2 separate regions of the Homo sapiens genome follow, and region 2 is linked to region 1. Evidence: fine-mapped expression QTL. A gene starts in region 1. The other region holds a variant in brackets. All regions are shown on one strand. Distances are from middle to middle. Region 1 holds the start of PARP9 (poly(ADP-ribose) polymerase family member 9). Region 2 overlaps CSTA (cystatin A).

What was found. PIP is the estimated chance that this variant, and not a neighbour inherited with it, causes the effect. A credible set is the group of variants that fine-mapping cannot tell apart.
Region 2: its variant is the best candidate, but not a certain one, in a credible set for the expression of PARP9 in thyroid (GTEx, PIP 0.51).

What each region holds. Positions count from the first base shown.
Region 1 is chr3:122,558,514-122,570,762 of GRCh38, forward strand. PARP9 (poly(ADP-ribose) polymerase family member 9) reads right to left here and starts at 5,787. Exons shown (of 11, transcript NM_001146105.2): 1 at 5,732-5,787; 2 at 1,093-1,196. The coding sequence starts at 1,107. It overlaps DTX3L (deltex E3 ubiquitin ligase 3L), which reads left to right and starts at 5,825. Exons shown (of 5, transcript NM_138287.3): 1 at 5,825-6,100; 2 at 7,346-7,557; 3 at 9,976-11,511; 4 at 11,942-12,159. The coding sequence starts at 5,914. LOC105374071 (a long non-coding RNA gene) reads left to right here. Exons shown (of 5, transcript XR_001740869.2): 5 at 1,377-1,457. RefSeq lists a silencer at 5,573-5,672 and an enhancer at 5,713-5,832.
Region 2 is chr3:122,338,113-122,350,020 of GRCh38, forward strand. CSTA (cystatin A) reads left to right here. Exons shown (of 3, transcript NM_005213.4): 3 at 3,327-3,857. The coding sequence ends at 3,455. Among named protein-coding and RNA genes, the nearest start is that of CSTA, 19 kb to the left of the region's middle. The variant AAAG/A (reference allele first, on the strand shown) is at 4,155.

The DNA of each region.
Region 1 (12,249 bases):
CTACAGCTTACTGATAACCAATACACCCTAGTAAACACAATGCAATGGAAATCCTGCTCAAAGCACTGTGTTTGGGAGGGCAGGAAGCATGTGTTTTTTTAAATCTGCATGCCCGAAACACTTAAAATACTAAATGTGCCAGCAAACATTGGCCCTATGTCATTTCCCTAGGGGCCGATGCATTTCTTTTTTTAAATTTAATTTTATTGTTTTTCGAGACAAGGTTTCACTCTGTCACCCAGGCTGGAGTGCAGTGGTGCAATCACAGTTCACTGCAGCCTTGAACTCCTGGGCTGAAGCAATCCTCCCATCTCAGTCTCCTGAATAGCTGGGACTACAGGCATGCACCACCATGCCCAGCTAATTGTTTTTACTTTTTTAGAGATGAGCGGAGTCTTGCTATGTTGACCAGGCTGGTCTCGAACTACTGATTTCAAGTGATCCTCCTGGCTTCAGCCTCTGTAGTAACTGGGATTATAGGCGCCAGCCACCGCCAATGCATCTCAGTGCATCTCATTCTAATTCAGAATGAGATGAGGTTTAGAGATCAACACTTTAAAAGGCCCAAAAGTCACAGACCAAAATGACCCCAAACTCTCAGATAGACTCCAATCTCCAAAAGCTCATGGGGTTTCTCTAGACAGAAGACCTGGGGACATGAGCCTCATCAGCTCTGTCTCTCATCCACCAGCAAGGATCCACTTTTAATTGCCTTTGTCATGGTACAAACCTTAATGTGGAATTTTCAAGTTTAGTAAGTGACTTCTAATCTGATCTTTCTCTATTCCCTTCTTTTCATTCATCCTCTATTACTCTCCTTACCCCAACCCGAAAAAGCAGAATCACTAAATGAGCTGAGAATTAAAATGATTCTGAAAAATCATCCAGCTTCAAGTTGACACTATTTATTAGATTAGCATATTCTTGATTCCCCATTTCTCAAGAAGGGAGAAAGGAGAAAACTTTATTGAGCTATTAAAAGCAGATGAGGATGTCAACTGTTGGTGAACACCCCAGATTTCTTGCTGTTATATAAAGAAGTATTCATGTGCTGATCAAGGTTCATGACGTATACACATTTATGCTTTTTACCATGGAAAAGTCCATCCTCCAGGTCCCCGGGGGAGTCTTTAAATGTTTATTCCCTTTTGCGCTTCAAAGCATAGACTGTAGTTTCCAGATATGGTGGCCCACTTCTAGGAATGAATTAGAAAAGATGCAATAAACATTAGCCAGAATCTTAGGAAATTCGGTAAGAATATACTGTAGGAGGACTGAACATGATTTCTGATCTTGATGAGTTCTTAATTTCCTTGATAACGATGTACACATTGTTTTGCTGTTGTTGTTACTGTTTGCCTTCTACCCTTTCCAAGAGAGGTTCCAGTGGAAATCATAATGGCAGTTCAGAGAAGGGAAAATGCTCTACGACCTGGAACAGGAAAAGCTATATGGAGGAGTTGAGACTAGAGCCTGGTCATGAAGGATGCAGGAGGTTTTTACATATTTAGAAGAAGAGGGTGATAACAAAGTGGTGAGACTGAGAACAGCATTCAAAGAACAGTAAAGAAGACCGAGCTTATGAGTGAGTGAAGCCCCCTGGAGAGCGTTTGAAGAAAGAGGAAATGCCACTAGAGCCTGTGAGGGGGGTGTATTATTGAATTTGTGATAAACATCCTTGACCTAATGATAGGGGTATATCTGGTTAAAAGTCAGAAAATCTGGGAAAAATACTTTGTTATGATTTTCCATCTAATAGGTAGGAATTAAAGATTATGAATTTTTAGAAGACTGATGATGAAAATGCTTAAAGATACAGTTGCCCACACTTGTTGCTATATTTAGGCCTCGAAATGATTTCTTTGTTTGTTTTTTTGTTTGTTTTTTTGTTTTTTGAGTTGGAGTCTCACTCTGTCCCCCAGGAATGCAGTGGCTCGATCTTGGCTCACTGCAAGCTCCGCCTCCTGGGTTCACGCCATTCTCCTGCCTCAGCCTCCTGAGTAGCTGGGACTACAGGCGCCCGCCACCACGCCCAGCTAATTTTTTGTATTTTTAGTAGAGATGAGGCTTCACCGTGTTAGCCAGCACGGTCTCAATCTCCTGACCTCGTGATCTACCCGTCTCGGCCTCCCAAAGTGCTGGGATTACAGGCGTGAGCGACCGCGCCTGGTCGAAATGATTTCTAATGTCTTTGCAATAGAAACATTTTGTACAACCATCTACAGCATCAGAGCACTATTCTTACTCATCAAGGGAAAGCAGCAGGTCTAGTACAATCCTTTGCATTCTAAAATGCAAAGACAAGATGCATTTTTTGCCTCCAGAGGGCACTGCTGTTTTCAAAAAAGAAGGATGACTTCATCTGCTTTGGCCATGGGCTTTTGCTTTAAATGTTGCACCTGTTTCTGTCTTCAGGCCAAGTTTTACAGGCCTATGGATAGCCAAACAAGGAGCATAGTGCCCTAAGCATTCCATTTCTTCCATTTTAAAAACAGAAAAGCCTTCCCAACTTTCCATCACTGGTTCCTACTGTGTTTCCTTCTCTTCATAAGCAGCCAAACTTCTGGAATGAGTAGTGGACTCTCCTTCTGTCCACCTGCCCACTCAGCCTACTATAACCTGGCTCCCTGCCTCATTCCCAGCACCCTTTTGAAACTGCCAGTGGCCAGGCATGGCGGCTCACACCTGTAACCACAGCACTTTGGGAGGCAGAGGCAGGCAGATTGCTTGAGCTCAGGAGTTCGAGACCAACCTGGGCAACATGGCAAGACCTCATCTCTACTAAAAATACAAAAAGTTAGCTGGCCATGTTGGTGCATGCCTATAGTCCCAGCTACTTGGGAGGCTGAGATGGGAGGATCACTTGGTGGGAAGTTCAGGCTGTAGTGAGCTGTGATTGTGCCACTGCACTCCAGCCTGGGCAAGAGGAATGAGACCCTGTCTCAAAAAAAAGAAGAGAAACTGCTCATCAGAATCCCTCATGTGGTTAATGCCAATGGATTATCTTCTATCCATCTTTACTGGACCACTTTCTATAGTATTTCACTCTTTGATTCCTGAAATTCTGCTTTCCTGGCTTCTCCTATGCCATCTTCCCTTGGTTCTTCTATTACCCTTCACTTTGCCTTTACAGGCCTTTTCCCTGCGTTCACTTCCACCATCTCCCTCTTAATTGTTTGCCCCAGGATTCTGTCTAAGGCGTTTTTCATCTCATTCTGCATACTCCCCAGGAGTGATCTCATCCATTTCCATGGCTTCAACTCACCAATTGCAAATATGACTCTTATATCTGCAGTTCTAGGCCATGGCTCTCCTGAGCCCCATTTTTCAACTCCACCTGGAGGTCTCACAGTCCCCTCAAATTAGCCTCTGCAAAAGTAGACCTCTTATCTCCTGGTCCCCAATCCTCCATCCCACCCCCACCAAATCCATACTTTATCTCCTGGATTCTACAGCTCAGTAAATGATAATACCATTTACGTACTCAAATCAGAAATCTAGGAACTTTCCCTGAGTCTTTTTTGTCTCATATCTGGGACCTGACAAACTAAATCACTTTCAAATATGCCCCTTCCTTCCTCGCCCACTGACACTGCCTCACTTCAGAGTCTCAGCAACTTTTGCCTGAGCTGTGGCAATATACTCTTTTCTTTTCTTTTCTTTTCTTTTCTTTTCTTTTCTTTTCTTTTCTTTTTGAGACGGAGTCTTACTCTGTCGCCCAGGCTGTGGCGCGATCTTGGCTCATTGGAAGCTCCGCCTCCCGGGTTCACGCCATTCTGCTGCCTCAGCCTCCCTAGTAGCTGGGACTACAGGCGCCCACCACCACGCCTGGCTAATTTTTTTTTTTTTTGTATTTTTTTTAGTAGAGACGGGGTTTCACCATGTTAGCCAGGATGGTCTCGATCTCCTGACCTCATGATCCGCCTGCCTTGGCCTCCCAAAGTGCTGGGATTACAGGCGTGAGCCACCGCGCCCAGCCATCAATATACTCTTTTCAAAGATTTAAATGTACCTAGTTTGACATTTTATTGTTTGAATAGGTATTACATTTACATGGTTCAAATTTAGAAAATGTAAAAGGTTTCCTCCTGTCTCCGCTGCTAAATTCCCTGTCCAGAGTCAATCAGCGCTTCTCCTGTATTCTTCCAGTGGCATTTTTTACACGAAAGGTAGTAGCTTATACACACACTTCTGCATCTTATTTTTCCCACATAATGTATCCTAGAGATCTTTTCATGTTAGCACATAGAGAGCTTTTTCATTTTTCCTACTGCCCATTGTATTCCATTGTATAGATATACTATTATTATTAAACTGCTAGTCCCCCTATTTATGGGCATTAAAGAGTTCCCTATCTTTTGCTATTGTAAACAAGGCTGTAAAGAACATCTTTGTACACAGGTCACTTCACACAGGGGCTAATATATCAATGGGACAAATTCCTAGAAATGGAACTCCAGAACCAAAAAGTATATGCAGTTGTAATTCTGACAGTATTGCCAAATTGTTCACAGTAAAGACGGGCCCATTTCCAGTCTTACCAGCCATGTGCAAAAACCTTATCTCAGGCCTCTCTGCCGCCACTCATCCCTGCTTGTAAATGTGTCCTCCACACGGTTGTCAGCACCATATTTCTAAAATGCAAATCTGGCAAGTCATTTTCTTGCTTTCCCTGCTTAAAGCCCTTCAGGTCATCTTCACTGCTCTTCAAGGCTTTTCACCATCTAAATATGTCCTGTCCAGGGTGGACTATCAGCCTCACATAGCTACTGAGGCTACATGTGGCCAGTCTGAATCGAGATGTGATGTAAGTATAAGAAAAACACTGGGTTGCAAAGACGTGGTATGATAAAAAGAATGTAAAAATCTCATTACATGCTGAAATGATTAAGTTTTGGATATGTCAAGCTAAATAACATCATTACAGTTAATTTCATCTGTTTCTTTATCCTTTAAAAATTTCCTAAAAATCATTAAAATTAATTTCATCTGTTTCTTTATCCTTTAAAAAATATGGCTGCAAAAATTTTAGAATGAACCTACTGGCTCCCATTGTATTTCTGCTGGACAGTGCCCATCTAGGTAGGCTCTCCCTCCTTCATCCCCTCACCCATCTCCTCTCCTCCCAGGCCCCAGGCCCACTCTGTGCTTCAGACCACAGTGGTCCCTAAGCCTCAGGTGCTTTTCCCCCCAATCCTGTCCTCCCCATCTCGCCGCCACACTCAATTTATTAAGATTCTGCTTGAAACTTCCCCTTGGAGGCCTTGGAGAAGTTTTGCTCCTTGGTTCACAGGTCCGCCTCCCCTCACCAGCCCTTGACATCAGGGCCTTGCTCTGCTCTTTGGGCAGCAAGAAACAATTCAGTGCTGTTGGTTAAATCAAGCAATGGAGGAGAAAAGCCCGCAGAAGCCCGTCTAAAGGGTAGAGTTGGAGGGAGGGAAGGGGTAACAGGTCACAATTACCAGATGAACACATTCAAATTTTCAAAAATGGGTAAGTTTAACATGGATTCAGAATGTGAATTACTTTTTAGGATCAAATAATAGTGGTAACAGCAGTAAGAGTTACAAAGAATAAGAAACACAGGAGAAACTTACTTTCTTTGCATAGTCTACTCACAAGGGAGGCCTGGCCCTGGGACCCGGGTCCGCGCCCGTCCCCCTTCTCCCCGCCCACCTCGAGCCTGCAGGAGAGGGGACCCCGAGGGCCCAGAGGCACCGGACCTACTCACCCGGCAGGCCGCTCTCCTCGGTGCAGACAGCACAGGGAGGAGGGGGAAGCGGCTCTGCCGGGAACAGGGAGGGACCTCCAGGGAAGCGAAACTGAAACTTTGCGCCCAGTCCGCAGGGCGGGCCGCGCCTTTACCGCCCAGCTGCCTCCCGGAGCCCCCGCGCCCTCCCGACGCGCAGAGCCATGGCCTCCCACCTGCGCCCGCCGTCCCCGCTCCTCGTGCGGGTGTACAAGTCCGGCCCCCGAGTACGAAGGAAGCTGGAGAGCTACTTCCAGAGCTCTAAGTCCTCGGGCGGCGGGGAGTGCACGGTCAGCACCCAGGAACACGAAGCCCCGGGCACCTTCCGGGTGGAGTTCAGTGAAAGGGCAGGTGAGCTTCGGGCGGCCAGGCTGCGAAAGCCCTCTGGGGGCCCGGCCCCCGGGTTTCCAGGCGGACCCAGTTCCAGCTGACCTAGGGGAGAGGGCGGGAGAAAGTATGTCACTGTGCGGTGGCGGACAGGGACGGGGCCCTACTGCCAAGAGACTCACTGAGACAGTGAACACTCGGTGGAGGATGGGGCCTCACATGTGCCTGGTGCGGGTCTGGCTGACGGCGCCTTAGTGTGGATGCTTTCCATATCCTCATTCTAACTTAATTTCTCAGCTGTCATCTTCCTTCCCCCAGATGCCTGCCAGCTGCTGTCCTTGTCATTCAGGGATTCCACTTTTATGTTTTAAATAATGGTTCCATTGTTCCATCCATGAACAAAAGGATGTTCCATTTTGTGTTTTTGAGGATTACAAAAGTGATATATGCTCACTATAGAAATAAAAGAGTAAAAAAGAAAACAACCTGAAGATAAACAATGTGACCATTTGGTGTATTTCCTTCCTGCCTTTTTTTATGAATGCCAGCAAACACATGTATATTTACAAAATTCGGAGTCTGCACTTTTGATTCCTGCTGTTGTCACTTACCTGTATAATGAGTATTGAAATGGGAGACTGGGCCGGGTGCGGTGGCTCACGCCTGTAATCCTAGCACTTTGGAGGCCGAGGTTGGTGGATCACCTGAGGCCAGGAGTTCGAGACCAGCCTGGCCAACATGGGGAAATTCCGTCTCTACTAATAATACAAAAATTACCCGGGCATGGTGGTGCGCACCTGTAATCCAAGCTACTCTGGAGGCTGAGGCAGGAGAATCGCTGGAACTCGGGAGGCAGAGAGGTTGCAGTGAGACGAGGTCCTACCATTGCACTCCAGCCTGGGTGACAGAGTGAGACTCCGTCTAAAAAAAAAAAAAAAAAAAAAAAGAAGGAAGGAAGGGAGGGAGGGAGGGAAAGAAGGAAGAAGGAAAGGGGAGACTGGAGACAGTTTTAGAAACATGATGTTTAATCGGTGGACAATGTTCCATTGTCATTAAGCTTTCACTTCTATAGTAAAACTTAATCCGCACACTTTAGAGCTCTTAATAGCTCCCCGACTTTCTCCATCGCCAACCCACCATTCCAGGATGCAGGGAGCAGCCTTACTGGGAGGTGCTGGGGCAGAGTACAGACACAGGAATGAGAGGATTACTTGAAATCTCTCCCATTTTTATGTGTGTATATGTGTGTGTTTAATGTCTCCACTGAAGCTAAGGAGAGAGTGTTGAAAAAAGGAGAGCACCAAATACTTGTTGACGAAAAACCTGTGCCCATTTTCCTGGTACCCACTGAAAATTCAATAAAGAAGAACACGAGACCTCAAATTTCTTCACTGACACAATCACAAGCAGAAACACCGTCTGGTGATATGCATCAACATGAAGGACATATTCCTAATGCTGTGGATTCCTGTCTCCAAAAGGTGAGTATTGAAAGAAGGAGCTGGCTGTGCCTGCGCCTCCTCTCCAGTCACCAGCCTCATGTATTATTGATCCAACACCCATGTGCTGGGCACGTACATGGGAGCCAGGCACTGTTTTAGGCACTGGACACAGAGATGAATATAACAGACAAGGCCCCTGCTCTCAGGCAGCTTATACTGGGGGCCAGGTCATGCACAGAAAGACAGTAGGCAAGTAAACAAAATAAATAAAACCATTTTATTTATTTGGAGAGAAACAGCGCCAGGGCAAGCAAGGGGAAGATGGGGGTGGTGTTACTTCTTTTTTTCCCCCCAAGACAGAGTCTCACTTTATCGCCCAGGCTGGAGTACAGTGGCACAATCATGGCTCACTGCAGAGTTGACCTCCTGGGCTCAAGGGATCCTCTCACCTCAGTCTCCTGAGTAGCTAGGACTATAGGCGCCACTACACCCAGCCAATTTTTTTTTTTTTTGTAGAAACAGAGTCTCACTATGTTGCCCAGGCTGTTCTCAAATTCCTGGGCTCAAGCGATCTGCCCGCCTTGGCCTCCCAAAGTGCTGGGATTACAGTCATGAATTACTGCACCTGGCCTGGTGCTACTTCTAACCAGAAATCAGAGACAACTTGACTGAGGAGGTGATGTTTGGCCTGAAACTTGAATGATGACAAGATTCATTCAACAATAGATATCCACTGCCTACTGTGTTCCAGGCACTGTTATAGGAGCTGGGGAGGCAGCCAGGAACATGGCAGACTCGGCTTCCAGGGACGGCACCTTCTAGAGAGAGAAACAGACAATATTAGTAAACAATAGATATATAATAAAATGTCTGCCAGTCATACCTGCTAGGAAGAAGAATAAGTGACAGACAGTGACAGAACCACCATTTAAAATAGGATGTCTGGAAAAACCTCAAGTGAGGTGACATCTCTAGCCAAGTGGATTTCTGGGCGGAAAGTGTCCTAGAGGGAAGCATAGGTGCAAAGTCCCCAAGAGCTGACATTTTGAGGCCCAGAAGCTTTAAGGAAGCCAGTGTGGTGGGGAGGGCAGTGAGCAATGGAGAGAGGTGCTAGGAACTCGGGAAGGTACCCAGAAGACAGGCCTTTGGGGCTGAAGGTAAGGATTTTGGATTTTTAACTTAAAATGTTAGGGGATTCATCAGATAGTTTTGAGCCAGGGGAGAGGGCGATCTGGTTTATATTTCTAAAGGGTCACTCTGGCTGCTGTTGGAAAACTGAACGTAGAAAGGGGATAGAATGGAGAGTTAGAGCCTGGTTAGGAGGGGTTGCAGTGCGCCAGGTGAAAGATGATAATGGCATGCACTTTGGTGGCCTTGATGGAGGTGTGAGAAATGGCTGGATTCAGGAAACATTTTGAAGATCTAGAGGAAGGATCTTAACATGCAAAGTCCTTGAGAAGGAACAAAACATTAGGAATTTTGCTTTTATATTACAGTCAATTGGTCTCTGTCCTTTTTATCTTAACCTGGCGTGTCTTATATTTGAGCTTCTAAAGGCCAGGGTTTAGAAGGGTCCACAACTTTGCATGCAGTCGAGTGTTTAGTTGAAACAAGAATAAAGGAGGAAGAGTGAAGAAGAGAAAAAATAGTAATAGGAAAAGCCATTGCCCTCAGTTTTATGGCTCCCTTCCAAGTTCACAAACTTTTGTGAGGGCCACAACAACTTGCCCAGAGAGCACAGGTGCCTTCCCTTGACTGCTGTTCCCAAGATCAAACAGCTAGTGGCAGTTGTAGAACACGGATCTCTTGGCCATGGAGCTTTTAGAAATGCTCATGCCCAGGCTCCACTGCAGATTAGTTAACATCAGAATCTCTGGGGATGTGCTTGGGCTTTGGCTGGTTTGTTTTTCCCTGAATTCGCCAGGTGAGTCTTATATGCAGACAGGGCTGAGAACCTCTGGGATGTAGCGTGCTGTATCCTCTAAAAAGGATTTGAGACCAGGCACGGTGGCACATGTCTGTAATCCCAGCACTTTGGGAGGCTGAGGTGGGTGGATCACCTGAGGTCAGGAGTTCCAGGCTAGCCTGACCAACATGGAGAAACCTCGTCTCTACTAAAGATACAAAATTAGCCGGGCGTGGTGGCACATGCCTATAATCCCAGCTACTCAGGAGGCTGAGGCAGGAGAATTGCTTGAACCCGGGAGGCGGAGGTTGCAGTGAGCTGAGATCGCGCCATTGCACTCCAGCCTGGGTAACAAGAGTGAAACTCCATCTTGAAATAAATAAATAAATAAATAAATAAATAAATAAATAAATAGGATTTGAAAGAAGTTGCCCCCACTTGGGAAAGATGTAGTGGTTGTTTCTCTAGTCTCTATGCATTCTCCTGAAGAGAAGATGGTAGGCCTGCATGCTGAGAGGTTTTATTTGTTCCTGTTCCTTTTAAAATTTCAGATCTTTCTTACTGTAACAGCTGACCTGAACTGTAACCTGTTCTCCAAAGAGCAGAGGGCATACATAACCACACTGTGCCCTAGTATCAGAAAAATGGAAGGTCACGATGGAATTGAGAAGGTGTGTGGTGACTTCCAAGACATTGAAAGAATACATCAATTTTTGAGTGAGCAGTTCCTGGAAAGTGAGCAGAAACAACAATTTTCCCCTTCAATGACAGAGAGGAAGCCACTCAGTCAGCAGGAGAGGGACAGCTGCATTTCTCCTTCTGAACCAGAAACCAAGGCAGAACAAAAAAGCAACTATTTTGAAGTTCCCTTGCCTTACTTTGAATACTTTAAATATATCTGTCCTGATAAAATCAACTCAATAGAGAAAAGATTTGGTGTAAACATTGAAATCCAGGAGAGTTCTCCAAATATGGTCTGTTTAGATTTCACCTCAAGTCGATCAGGTGACCTGGAAGCAGCTCGTGAGTCTTTTGCTAGTGAATTTCAGAAGAACACAGAACCTCTGAAGCAAGAATGTGTCTCTTTAGCAGACAGTAAGCAGGCAAATAAATTCAAACAGGAATTGAATCACCAGTTTACAAAGCTCCTTATAAAGGAGAAAGGAGGCGAATTAACTCTCCTTGGGACCCAAGATGACATTTCAGCTGCCAAACAAAAAATCTCTGAAGCTTTTGTCAAGATACCTGTGAAACTATTTGCTGCCAATTACATGATGAATGTAATTGAGGTTGATAGTGCCCACTATAAACTTTTAGAAACTGAATTACTACAGGAGATATCAGAGATCGAAAAAAGGTATGACATTTGCAGCAAGGTTTCTGAGAAAGGTCAGAAAACCTGCATTCTGTTTGAATCCAAGGACAGGCAGGTAGATCTATCTGTGCATGCTTATGCAAGTTTCATCGATGCCTTTCAACATGCCTCATGTCAGTTGATGAGAGAAGTTCTTTTACTGAAGTCTTTGGGCAAGGAGAGAAAGCACTTACATCAGACCAAGTTTGCTGATGACTTTAGAAAAAGACATCCAAATGTACACTTTGTGCTAAATCAAGAGTCAATGACTTTGACTGGTTTGCCAAATCACCTTGCAAAGGCGAAGCAGTATGTTCTAAAAGGAGGAGGAATGTCTTCATTGGCTGGAAAGAAATTGAAAGAGGGTCATGAAACACCGATGGACATTGATAGCGATGATTCCAAAGCAGCTTCTCCGCCACTCAAGGGCTCTGTGAGTTCTGAGGCCTCAGAACTGGACAAGAAGGAAAAGGGCATCTGTGTCATCTGTATGGACACCATTAGTAACAAAAAAGTGCTACCAAAGTGCAAGCATGAATTCTGCGCCCCTTGTATCAACAAAGCCATGTCATATAAGCCAATCTGTCCCACATGCCAGACTTCCTATGGTATTCAGAAAGGAAATCAGCCAGAGGGAAGCATGGTTTTCACTGTTTCAAGAGACTCACTTCCAGGTTATGAGTCCTTTGGCACCATTGTGATTACTTATTCTATGAAAGCAGGCATACAAACAGTAAGTATTTCTCAAGTCCATGGGTTTCTTGCCACTATGCTACGATTACCAGGGCAAAAGAGACTGTCCTGTTGCCTATTAGACAATAGATTTCCCAAGGAATTATCTCCAGGGTCATGTGCAAGGGACTGAAATAGTGGTAAAGGTCACAATGTTTGCTGGTAATTCAAATACCTTTTGTGTCTATTTCTTAAGACAGAGAAAGGGTGGGTGGAGATTATATCTTGAGATGGGGGTATCAGGAAGGTGGACAGTGTTTCCAGCATGAATTCAAGGAAAGAGGAGAAATATGAGTTATTGGGAATATGAGCATAACTTCAATACCTTTCTTGCTTTTGATTTGCTTTATCTACAAATGAACACATCTATACCTATAGTAAAAATTAGACAGGGCACTCTTTTCACATGACATTTTCTTGTTCTCACACAGGAAGAACACCCAAACCCAGGAAAGAGATACCCTGGAATACAGCGAACTGCATACTTGCCTGATAATAAGGAAGGAAGGAAGGTTTTGAAACTGCTTTATAGGGCCTTTGACCAAAAGCTGATTTTTACAGTGGGGTACTCTCGCGTATTAGGAGTCTCAGATGTCATCACTTGGAATGATATTCACCACAAAACATCCCGGTTTGGAGGACCAGAAATGTGAGATCCTTTTGGGATGTAATGGCTGCTCAACAGAGTATAGGGATTATGAAATACGGCAATTTCTGGATGTGGATATAAGTAGACTCT
Region 2 (11,908 bases), 220 kb before region 1:
TTCAATTAATATAATGTAAATACTATTTTGTAACTCAAATTAGATTTAACTTGTGGCACTCTAGGCATAGTTTAAAAGAGTGGAGTATTTAAAATAGTTTAAAAGTTAATTTTATAGCTCTGTCAAAAAATTACACAATGCATTGATCGAGTTCTAATTGAAGTTATCAAGAGGAAACCAGTTGAACAAGTCAACCATGAATATTTGAGAGCCATGTTTGTCCTTATATATTAAGAAGATGATAATGCTGATTTTAAAAATAAAAACAAATATTCAAGTATATTTACTTAATCTTTACTTCACTATTTGACCAGGGCACAGTGTGGCTTATTTCTCTTTAACAAATATTTCTATTAAAATATAAACATTTTAAAAGATTTTTTCAGCAAAAAAAAAAAAAAAAGTAAGTGAAGTAAGTGGAGCTAGTCAGCTCAGCATAAGAAAGTTTCAGTACAGAGCTATGTACACAGATCAGCCCTGTTCTGCCAAATGTGAGCTCCTAGTAACGACCAGGTCCCGGGGAGACACATGTGAAAGAGGACCCTGCTGTATCCTCAGAAAACAATGGCACCATTTCCTCCATTCTCAATCTGCTTTCTTCATGGCTGGAAAAGAAAGTTTTCCAGTTAAAAATGATTATGTGCAAAGATAGGAAACATTCCATCAACATTAACATATTTAATAATTTATGATTAATTCAAATGCATAAATTTCACATATTACCAGCTCACATGTTTCTTCAACAGTTCATCAGATAACTATCTTGAAAATTTCTGCTTGAAAATTTGTTCCCTTGACCACCCTTTTGCCCTCTCTTAATCAGTCTCCTCTCTCTCTCTCATCTTTTCTTCCTTCTGCTATCAAACTTTTCCTACTGGATCTCAGCCACCGATCCCAGTTCCCTTTTACTTCCTGGTAGTCTGGCTGTTGATCCCTTTGCTCTGAGGCACTCTAGATTTAAGGTCTTGCCAGTGATGTGACCTTCTCTATGTATTTCAAGTACCTATCAAGAGGTAGGTGGTAGAATGGAAGGACCACAAGCTTAGGTGTCAGAGTGTCCTGGGTTTGAACCCTTGTTCAATTTGTTCTATGGGAAGCTCCTCCTCCTCTCTGAGCCTTCATTCCCTTATCTGCACAATGAGGGTAATAATCTACTTCGCAGCGTGTTGTGAGGAATAAATAAGCTGGAAATTTATTGAGCACTTATAATTCACTATGCACTATTCTAAGAACAGGGCTTATCTCATTTAATCCTCACAACAAATCTATGAGATAAGTACAATCACTTCTCTTGGGTTACCAACGAAAAAACTGAGTTCCAGGGTGGTGAAGAAACTAAAAAGATCACACAACTACAAGAGCAGAGTCAGGATTTGAACCCAGATAGACTGAGCTTAACTACTGGCTGTGCTGCCTCTAATATAAAGCACAAAATAAGAGCTTTTACAAGGTTACACTGGCCTGGTGTGGTGGCTTATACCTGTAATCCGAACACTTTGGGAGGCCAAGGTGGGAGGATAGCTTGAAGCCAGGAGTTTGAGATCATTCTGGGCAACATAGCAAGACCCTGCCTCTACAAAGAAAATGTTTTAATTACCTAGGCATGGTGATGCACACCAGTAGTCCTAGCTACTTGGGAAGCTGAGGTAGGAGGATCACTTGAGCCGAGGAGTTTGAGGTTGCAGTGAGCTGCGATCGCACCACTGCACTGTGAGCCAGGCCTCATTCCCCGATCAGTACCCCCCAAAAATGTTACATTGTAGAGTGAAAAGAATGTAGATGCTAGAGGCTAACAGATCTGGGTTTGAATATTGGCTGTGCCACTGACTAGCTGAGAGATTTATGGAAAATCACTTAATCTCTCCTACTCTGCTTCCACGTCTGTAAAAATTTCATTGCTCCACTTTTCTTCAGGCCTATAATATAGGTTAATATAATCATTTATATAAAATGTTCATCATAGTGTCTGGCTCACAGTAAACATTTGATATATGGCATTTGTTAAAATTAGGATAGGAAGTGACATCAGAAGCACAATAAATATTTGTATAAGACAAAGCATTTATTGTCTCCAGCAAGAACCAAAGTAAAAATTCTTACCATAATTTTCCAGGTCTCAGATTCATGTCCAAACTACTGCTTCTGCTTCAACCTTCCTACCAATGACTTCCTAGTAAAACCCCTTAGCTTTTTTTTTTCTTTTCTTTTTTGAGACGGAGTTTCACTCTGTCACTCAGGCTGGAGTGCAGTGGCACAATCTCGGCTCTCTGCGACCTCCACCTCCCGGATTCAAGCGATTCTCCTGCTTCAGCCTCCCAAGTAGCTGGGATTACAGATGTGCACCACCACACCCAGCTAATTTTGTATTTTTAGTAGAGACCAGATTTCACCATGTTGGCCAGGTTTGTCTCAAACTCCTGACCTCAGGTGATCCACCCACCTTGGCCTCCCAAAGTGCTGGGATTATAGGCGTGAGCCACAGTGCCCGGCTGGCCCCTTCACTTTAGAAGGGAGGGTGTCCGCCCCCTGGGCTCTGCTCAATCCTACCAGTGGGTGTTTATAAAGTAGGTTCTGATATAGGTATGGGAACCCTGCATCCCAAATTTTCTAGGGCAATTCTGATTTTCTTCTCCCTTATCAGACTGTATGGCAAACAAAGTGTCCCAAGTTGAGAGTCAGAAAACAGTATCACCAAAAATATAGGCTATCACTTGTTTTCTTGCTCCATGCATCTTTGAAAATAAAATGCTGTCCTTTGTGCCCAGATTATACTAAAAAAAATAACAAAATAAACCTAGGACCTATGCCTCTTGCCATGCCATTAGTCTACAATTTTTTTTTTTTTTTAAGACAAACTCTTGCTCTATCACCCAGGCTGGAGTACAGTGGCATGATCTCGGCTCACTGCAACCTTCTCCTCCTGGGTTCAAGTGATTCTCCTGCCTCAGCCTCTAGAGTAGCTGGGATTACAGGCATGCACCACCATGCCCGGCTAATTTTTTGTATTTTTAGTAGAGACGGGATTTCACCATGCTGGCCAGGCTTGTCTTGAACTCCTGACCTCGTGATCCCCCTGCCTCAGCCTCCCAAAGTGCTAGGATTACAGGTGGGAGCCACGGCACCCAGCCTAGTCTGCTCTTTTTCTCCTAAAATAAGGTGGTGGATTTATGAATACAAAGAGTCTAAGAATGGTGGACTAGGTCTAGCAATGCTGTTCCTCAGCAGCTTTTTGGACAGAAGTCTTTGTAGACCTGTGGCTCTCTCACTTGATGTAGACCCATTTGAATGAATCTCCTTTTGCTTTCTCTTTCTTTAATATTTTTCAGGTACGAGCAGGTGATAATAAATATATGCACTTGAAAGTATTCAAAAGTCTTCCCGGACAAAATGAGGACTTGGTACTTACTGGATACCAGGTTGACAAAAACAAGGATGACGAGCTGACGGGCTTTTAGCAGCATGTACCCAAAGTGTTCTGATTCCTTCAACTGGCTACTGAGTCATGATCCTTGCTGATAAATATAACCATCAATAAAGAAGCATTCTTTTCCAAAGAAATTATTTCTTCAATTATTTCTCATTTATTGTATTAAGCAGAAATTACCTTTTCTTTCTCAAAATCAGTGTTATTGCTTTAGAGTATAAACTCCATATAAATTGATGGCAATTGGAAATCTTATAAAAACTAGTCAAGCCTAATGCAACTGGCTAAAGGATAGTACCACCCTCACCCCCACCATAGGCAGGCTGGATCGTGGACTATCAATTCACCAGCCTCCTTGTTCCCTGTGGCTGCTGATAACCCAACATTCCATCTCTACCCTCATACTTCAAAATTAAATCAAGTATTTTACAAAGTGTGTGTGTGTGTGTGTGTGTGTATATATATACTTTTTTTTTTTTTTTTTTTTTGAGACAGAGTCTCGTTCTGTCACCCAGGCTAGAGTGCAATGGTGTGATCTCGGCTCACTGCAACCTCCACCTCCCAGGTTTAAGCGATTCTCCCATCTCAGCCTCCCAAGTAGCTGGGATTACAGGCACCTACCACTGCGCCTAGCTAATTTTTGTATTTTTAGTAGAGACAGGGTTTTGCCATGTTGGCCAGGCTGGTTTCGAACTCCTGACCCTAGGTGATCTGCTCGCCTTGGCTTCCC[AAAG/A]TGCTGGGATTACAGGTGTGAGCCACCTTGCCCAGTCTATATTTTTATTCTGAAACAAACTTAAACATAGAGAAAAGTTGCAAAAAAAAAAAACCCACTTTTTTTCCTGGACATTTGAGACTAAGTTACTTACCATGATGCCCCATCATCAACAAATACTTCAGTGTGCATTTCCTACAAACAAGGATATTCTCCTGCAAAACTGAAATACAACCATCAAAATCAGGAAATTGCCAGGTCGCAGTGGCTCACGCCTGTAATCCCAGCACTTTGGTAGGCCAAGGCAGCAGGATTGCTTGAGGACAGGAATTTAAGACAAACCTGGGCAACATAGCGAGACCATGTCTCTACAAAAAGAAATTAGAAATTAGCTGGGCATGGTGGTATGCACCTGTAGTCCTAGCTACTTGGGAGGCTGACGTGGGGGGATGGCTTAAGCCCAGGAATTCGAGGCTACAGTGAGCTATACTCATGCCACTGCACTCCAGCCTGGGTGACAAAGAGAGACCGTGTCTCTAAAAAAAAAAAATTAAAAATAAAATTAAACAATTAAGAAATTAACACTGATACACTGGTAGCATCTAATCCCCAGACACCATTCAAATTACCCCAATTGTCCCAATAATGTCATTTATTACAAAAAGATCCAAGCCAGGTGAGGTGGCAAGCACCTGTAGTCCTAGCTACTCAGGTGGCAGAGGCAGGAGGACCTCTAGAGGCCAGGAGTTCAAGGCTATGGTGTGCAATGATCGTGCCCATGAGTAGCCACTGCATGCCAGCCTGGGCAACATAGCAAGACCCCATCCCAAAAAAAAGATCCAATCCAAAATAACTTGCTCCATTTAATTGCCATTTTCCTCTTATTTAATACCTTCATTGAGACATAAATTGAAACATACAACTTACCCATTTAAAGTGTACAAGTGAATAGTTTTATACCACATTCACAAATGCGTGCAGACCTCACAAAATTTTAGAACATTTTCGTCACCTCAAAAAGAAGTCTCATACCTGTTAGCTGTCACTTCCCCAGCCTCCTCCACACATAAGCAACAACTCAACTCCTAAGCAACAACTAATTTACTGTCTAGATTTGCCTGGTCTGGACATTCATACATGTGGAATTATATAATATGTGGTGGTCCTTTGTAACTGCCTTCCTTCACTTAACATAGTTTTCAAAATTCATCAGTGTTGTAGCACGTCTCAGTATTTTATTCCTTTTTATGGACAAATATTCCATTTTATCAATATATCACACGTTGTTTATTAACTAATCAGTTGACAGATATTTAAGTTGCTTTCACCTTTTGACTATCAGGAACACTGCTACTATAAATATTTGTGTACAAGGTTTTGTGTGTACATAGGTTTTCATTTCTCTTGGGTATATACCTAGGAGTAGAATTGCTGGTTCATACGGTAACTAACTCTATGTTTAATTGTTTGAGAAACTTACAGACGGTTTTCTGAAGTGGTCACACCATTTTACATTCTCACCAACAGTGGATGAGAGTTCCATTTTCTCCATATCCTCACCCACACTTGTTATTATCTGAATTTTTTTAAGGTTAGCCATCTTAGTGGATGTGAAATAATAGCTCATTGTGGTTTTGATTTGTATTTCCCTGATGACTAATGCTATTGAACATCTTTTCATGAGATGATTAGCCATTTGTATTAGGCTGATGCAAAAGTTAGTGTAGTTTTTGCCATTTAAAAATAATAACAAAAAACATAATTACCTGTCTTAGTCCATTTTCTGTTGCTTATAACAGAATATCTGAAACTGGGTAATTTATAAAGAAAATGAGTTTATTTATTACAGTTATGGAGGCTGAGAAGTCCAAAGCTGAGGGCCAGGCACAGTGGCACATGCCTGTAATCCCAGCACTTTGGGAGGCCGAGGTGGGTGGATCACCTGAGGTCAGGAGTTTGAGACCAGTTTGACTAACATGGTGAAATTCCATCTCTACTAAATACAAAAAATTAGCCAGGAGTGGTGGTGCATGCCTGTAATCCCAGCTATTTGGGAGGCTGAGGCAGGAGAATCACTTGAACCCAGGAGGCAGAGGTTGCAGTGAGCTAAGATCGTGCCATTGCACTCCAGCCTGGGCAACAAGTGTGAAACCCTGTCTCAAAAAAAAAGAAGTGCAAAGTTGAGGGACCACATCTGGTGAGAGCCTTCTTGCAGGTGGCGACTCTCTGCAGAGTCCTGTCCTGAGGCAGCACAAGCATCATCACATGGCGAGGGGGCTGAGCATGATAGATCAGGTCTCTCTTCCTCTTCTTACAAAGCCACCCGCCCCACTCCCATGATAACCCATTAATCCATTAATCCATGAATGGATTAAGCCATTCATGAGGGCAGAGCCCTTATTATTCCATCATCTTTTAAGGGCCCCACCTCTCAATAGTACCACATTGGGGATTAAGTTTCAACATCAGTTTTGAAGGAGTCAAATATTCAAACCACAGCATATATTCTGAATACAGGCCCCTTATCTGATATATGATTTGCAAATACTTTCTTCTCATTTTGTGGTTATCTTTTCAATCTCTTGATGGCATTCTCTGAAGCACAAAAGTTTTTAATTTTAATGAAGTCCAAATTATCTATTTATCTTTTTGCTCCTCATGCTCTTGGTATCATAACTAAGGATCCTTTGCCAAATCCAAACTCATAGTGATTTACTCCCCTGTTTTCTTCTAAGTGATATGTAGCTTTAGCTCTTACATTTAGGTCGTTTGTCCCTTTTGAGTTAATTTTTGTATATGGTGTGAGGTAAGTGTCCAACTTCATTCTTTTGCATGTGGCTATCTAGTTATCTTAGCACCATTGGTTGAAAAGATTTCTTTACCCCATCGAATTATCTTGGCACCCTTGTTGAAAATCAGTTGATCACAGGCACGAGTTAATTTCTCAACTCTCAATTTTATTCCATTAATCTATATATCTATCCTTTTGTCAGTACTACACTTTTTTGATTACTGTTGCCTTGTAATAAGTTTTACAATTGTGAAGTGTGAGTCCTTCCAACTTTGCTCTTCCTTTTCAAGAGTTTTTTGGCTCTTCTGAATTCTTTGAACTTCCACATGAATTTTAGAATCAGCTTATAAATTTCTACAAAGAAGTCAGCTAGGATTTTCATAGAGATTATGCTGAATCTGTAGATAAGTTTGGGTAATACTGCCATCTTAACAATATTAAGCCTCTGATCCATGAACATAAGATGTTTTCCCAATTATTTCTATCTGTATTTCTTTCAACAATTGTTTTTAGTTTTCAGAGTATATATTTTGTACTTTTTTTGTTAAATTCATTCCCAAATATTTTGTTCTTATTGATGCTATTATAAATGAGATTTTTTGGCTTATGTATTGCAAGTTTATAGAAATACAATTGATTTTTGTACATTGATTTTATATTTTTTAACCTTGATGACCTTGTGTATTGGTGGATTCTTTAGAATTTTCTATATACAAGACCATATCATTGCAAATAGAGGCAGTTTTATTTCCCCCTTTCTAACCTGGATACTTTTTTTTTCTTGCATAATTGCACTGGTGAGAAACTTCAATATAAAACTGAATAGAAGTGATGAGAGCAGGCATCCTTGTCTTGTTCCTGATCTTAGGAGGAAAACATATAATTTTTTTATCCTTTAGTAAAAAGTTAGCTGTGGAGTTTTCATAGATGCCTTGTATTAAGTTAAGAAAGTTTACTTCAAGGCTAAGCGTGGTGGCTCACACCTGTAACCTTAGCACTTTGGGAGGCCGAGGTGGGTAGATCACTTGAGCTCAGGAGTTAGAGACCAGCCTGGGTAACATGGTGAAATCCTGTATCTACGAAAAATACAAAAATTATCTGGGCATGGTAATACACGCCCGTAGTCCCAGCTACTTGGGGAGCTGAGGCCAGAGAATCACTTGAACCCAGAGGTTGAGGCTGCAGTGAGCCAAGATTATGCCACTGCACTCCAGTGACAAAGTGAGACCCTGTTTCAAAAAAAGAAAGTTTCCTTCTAGCTCATTTTTATTATGAAAGGACATTGGATTTTATTACATGCTCTTTCTGCATCTGTTGAAACAGTGATGTGGTTTTGTTTTTTACTCTATCGATATAGTATATTATATTGATTTTTTATATGAAACCAACTTTGCATTTCTGGAATAAACCCCGTATGGTCATGGTATATAATTATTTTTAGACGTGCTACATTCAGTTTGCTAGAATTTTGTTGAGGATTTTTGCATTTATATTCATAAGAGATATTGGTCTACAGTTTTCTTGTTGTTGTTGTTGTTGAGACAGCGTTTTGCTCTGTCACCCAGGCTGGAGTGCAGTGGCACAATCTTGGCTCACTGCAACCTCTGTCTCTCAGGTTCAAGCGATTCTCCTGCCTTAAGCTCCTGAGTAGTCGGGAGTTGGGACTACAGTCATGCACCACCACGCCCGGCTAATTTTTGTATTTTAGTAGAGACAGGGTTTCACCATCTTGGCCAACCTGGTCTCGAATTCCTGACCTCAGGTGATCCACCCTCCTTTGCCTCCCAAAGCATTGGGATTACAGGCATGAGCCACCATGTCCACCCTGTCTATAGTTTTCTTGTGACACCTTTGTCTGGTTTTGGTAGAATTGGTGAATTGGTATTAATTCTTCTTTAAACCTTTTTTTTTTTTTTTTTTTTTTTGAGAAATGGTCTCACTCTGTTGCCCAGGCTGGAGCGCACTGGCCAATCTTGGCTCACTGCAACCTCCATCTCCTGGGTTCAAGTGATTTTCCTGCCTCAACCTCTTAAGTAGCTGGGATTACAGGTGCTCACTACCACTCTGGGCTAATTTTTATATTTTTTCAGTACAGACAGGGTTTCACCATGTTGGTCAGTCTGGTCTCAAACTCCTGACCTCAAGTGATCCACCCACCTTGGCCTCCCAAAATGCTAGTATTACCGGTGTGAGCCACTGTGCCCAGCCTTCTTTAAACCTTTAGTAGAATTCAGCAGTGAAGCCATCTGGGCCTGGGCTTTTCTCTGTGGGAACTTTTTTTATTACTAATTCAATATCCAAACTTATTATAGGTCTATTTAGGTTCACTGTTTCTTCTTGAGTCAGTTTTGGTAGTATGTGTTATTCTAGGAATTGTTCATTTTATCTATGTTATCTATTATTGGCATACAATTGTTCATAGTATTCCTTCATAATCCTTTCATTTCTGTAACATCAATATTAATGTCTCACCTTTCATTTCTGATTCTAGTAATTTGAGTATTCTCTTTTTGCTCTTAGTCTACCTGTAGGTTTGTCAACTTTGTTCATCTTTTCGAAAAAACAACTTTTATTTCAATAATATTCTGTAGTGTTTTTCTATTCTCTATTTTATTAATTTCTACTCTAATCTTTATTATTTCTTTCCCTCTGCTTGCTTTGGGTTGACTTTGATCTTCTATTTTCTGTGTCTTAAGGTAAAAGGTTAGGTTATTGATTTGATATTATCTTTTTTGGCATAAGTGTTGACAGCTATAAATTTCCCTCTAAGCATTGCTTTAGCTGCATTCCATAAGTTTTGGTATGTTGTTTATTTTCATTCATGTCAAAGTACTTTCTAATTTTCCTTTTGATTTTTTCTTGATTTCTTCTGTGACCCATTGATTATTTAGGAGTATGCTGTTTAATTTCTACGTATTTGTAAAGTCTTCCATCCTTGCTCCTGTCGCCTACCCTTGTGACTCCCACCTCCACCGTCCTCACCCCCTCATCTGCCCCCCAATGCTCAGTCTCTTATATCCTGTCCTGGACCACTGCCACTATCCCCCTATGTAAATACCTGCCCTCTCCATGCCAGCTATGCTCCACCATGGTGGGTGGGCACCTACCCATGGAGAAGCCAACTCCAACATCTAGTTTCAGACCATCCAAAACCAATATCTGCTCTCCTTGGCCCTACTTAATGGATTTGGGGCTAAATTGTTAGGGAAGGAGAGAGGAAGAGGAAGTGGAGGGGAGAGTAAAGGAAAAGGAGAGAATGAGAGAGGCAAAGTGAAGAGAAAACTTGTCTTAAACATGCTCGAGCCGGGGCCAGGTGCAGTCGCTCACGCCTGTAATCTCAGCACTTTGGGAGGCCAAGGTGGGAGGATCATGAGGTCAAGAATAGAGACCATCATGGCCAACATGGTGAAACCCTGTCTCTACTAAAAATACAAAAATTAGCTGGACGTCGTAGCGTGCGCCTGTAGTCCCGCTACTCGAGAGGCTGAGGCAGGAGAACCGCTTGAACCCAGGAGGCAGAGGTTGCAGTAAGCCAAGATTGCACCACTGCACTCCAGCCTGGCTACAGAGTGAGACTCTATCCCAAAAAAAAAAGAAAAAAAAAATTGCTCGAACCTGGTGTGGTGGTATGCACCTGTAGCTACTTGTGAGGCTGAGGCAGGAGGATTGCTTGAGCACAGGATTTTGAGGTTGCAATGAGCTATGATTGCACCACTGCACTCCAGCCTGAGTGAGAGAGCAAGATCCTGTCTCTAAAAAAAAAAAAAAAAAAAAGATGTTGTAAAGCAAGCTTGTCCAACCCGCAACCCACAGGCACCCAGGACGGCTTTGAATGCAGCCCAACACAAATTCGTAAACTTTCTTAAAACATTATGAGTTTTGTGTTTTTTTTTAGCTCATCAGCCATCATTAGAGTTAGTGTCTTTTATGTGGGGCCCAAGACAATTCTTCTACCAATGTGGCCAGGGAAGCCAAAAGATTGGACACCCCTGCTCTAAAGTCTCCCTCTGGGCTCTGCACTCTGCTCATCACCCCATTAATGCCACTTGCCAATCCTCTGTCCCAAATAATAATAATAGCTAATATATATTAAATGCTTACCATAGTCTAGGTAGTGTTCCAAAGACTTTACAAATAAAACTTATTTAACTTTTATAACAATCTCATGAGGTAAATATTATTGCTATCCTCTCTTTACAGAAGACTGAGTATAGAGAGGTGAAATTACTTGTGCAAGGCCACCTGACTAGTTAGTAGAGAAGTAAGGATGTGATCCCAGGCTGTTTGCCTCCAGGGCCAATACTCTACCCCTACACTCTACTAACATATGCTCAGAATTCCTTCCCTCAGCTATTCTGACCCCTTGAAGCAGATACGTAAGGGAGTGTTGAAACACTGGTTGTTTTTAAATAACCATTACTAACTCTTAATGCCTCAGAATGGAGAAGCTATCCTATTCATCTGCCTTCAGCTCCTAGCACATAAACAGTCAATAAGTGAACTAAAAGATCTCCACTGGCTGACTAGTATTAGCACTCTGGAGCTCTTAGGTAACAAGAACAACTAGAGACAACTCTACTGGCCCAGTAATAAGAATTCTTTTCTGAGCAATGCAAAAACATAGACACACACACATGGGTAGCTGTATACACAGAGCAGTTGATTAAAGATATAGGAAACACCATAATTAGGGTGATTAGATTTACTTTAACCTGATTTTGGGGTGGAAAGTCTAAATACATCACACGCTTAAAAATTAATCTAATAAGGGACATACAAAACCTATGCAAAGAGAATGACACTCATGCACTGCCATAATGATGTTTTCATCAATGACAGACCACATATACAATGGGGTCCCATAAAATTATAATGCAGCTGAAAAATTCCTATCACCTAGTGACATCGTAGCCATAGTAAAAACTTAATGCAATACATTACTCACATGTTTTTGGTGATGCTGGTGTAAACAAACCTACCT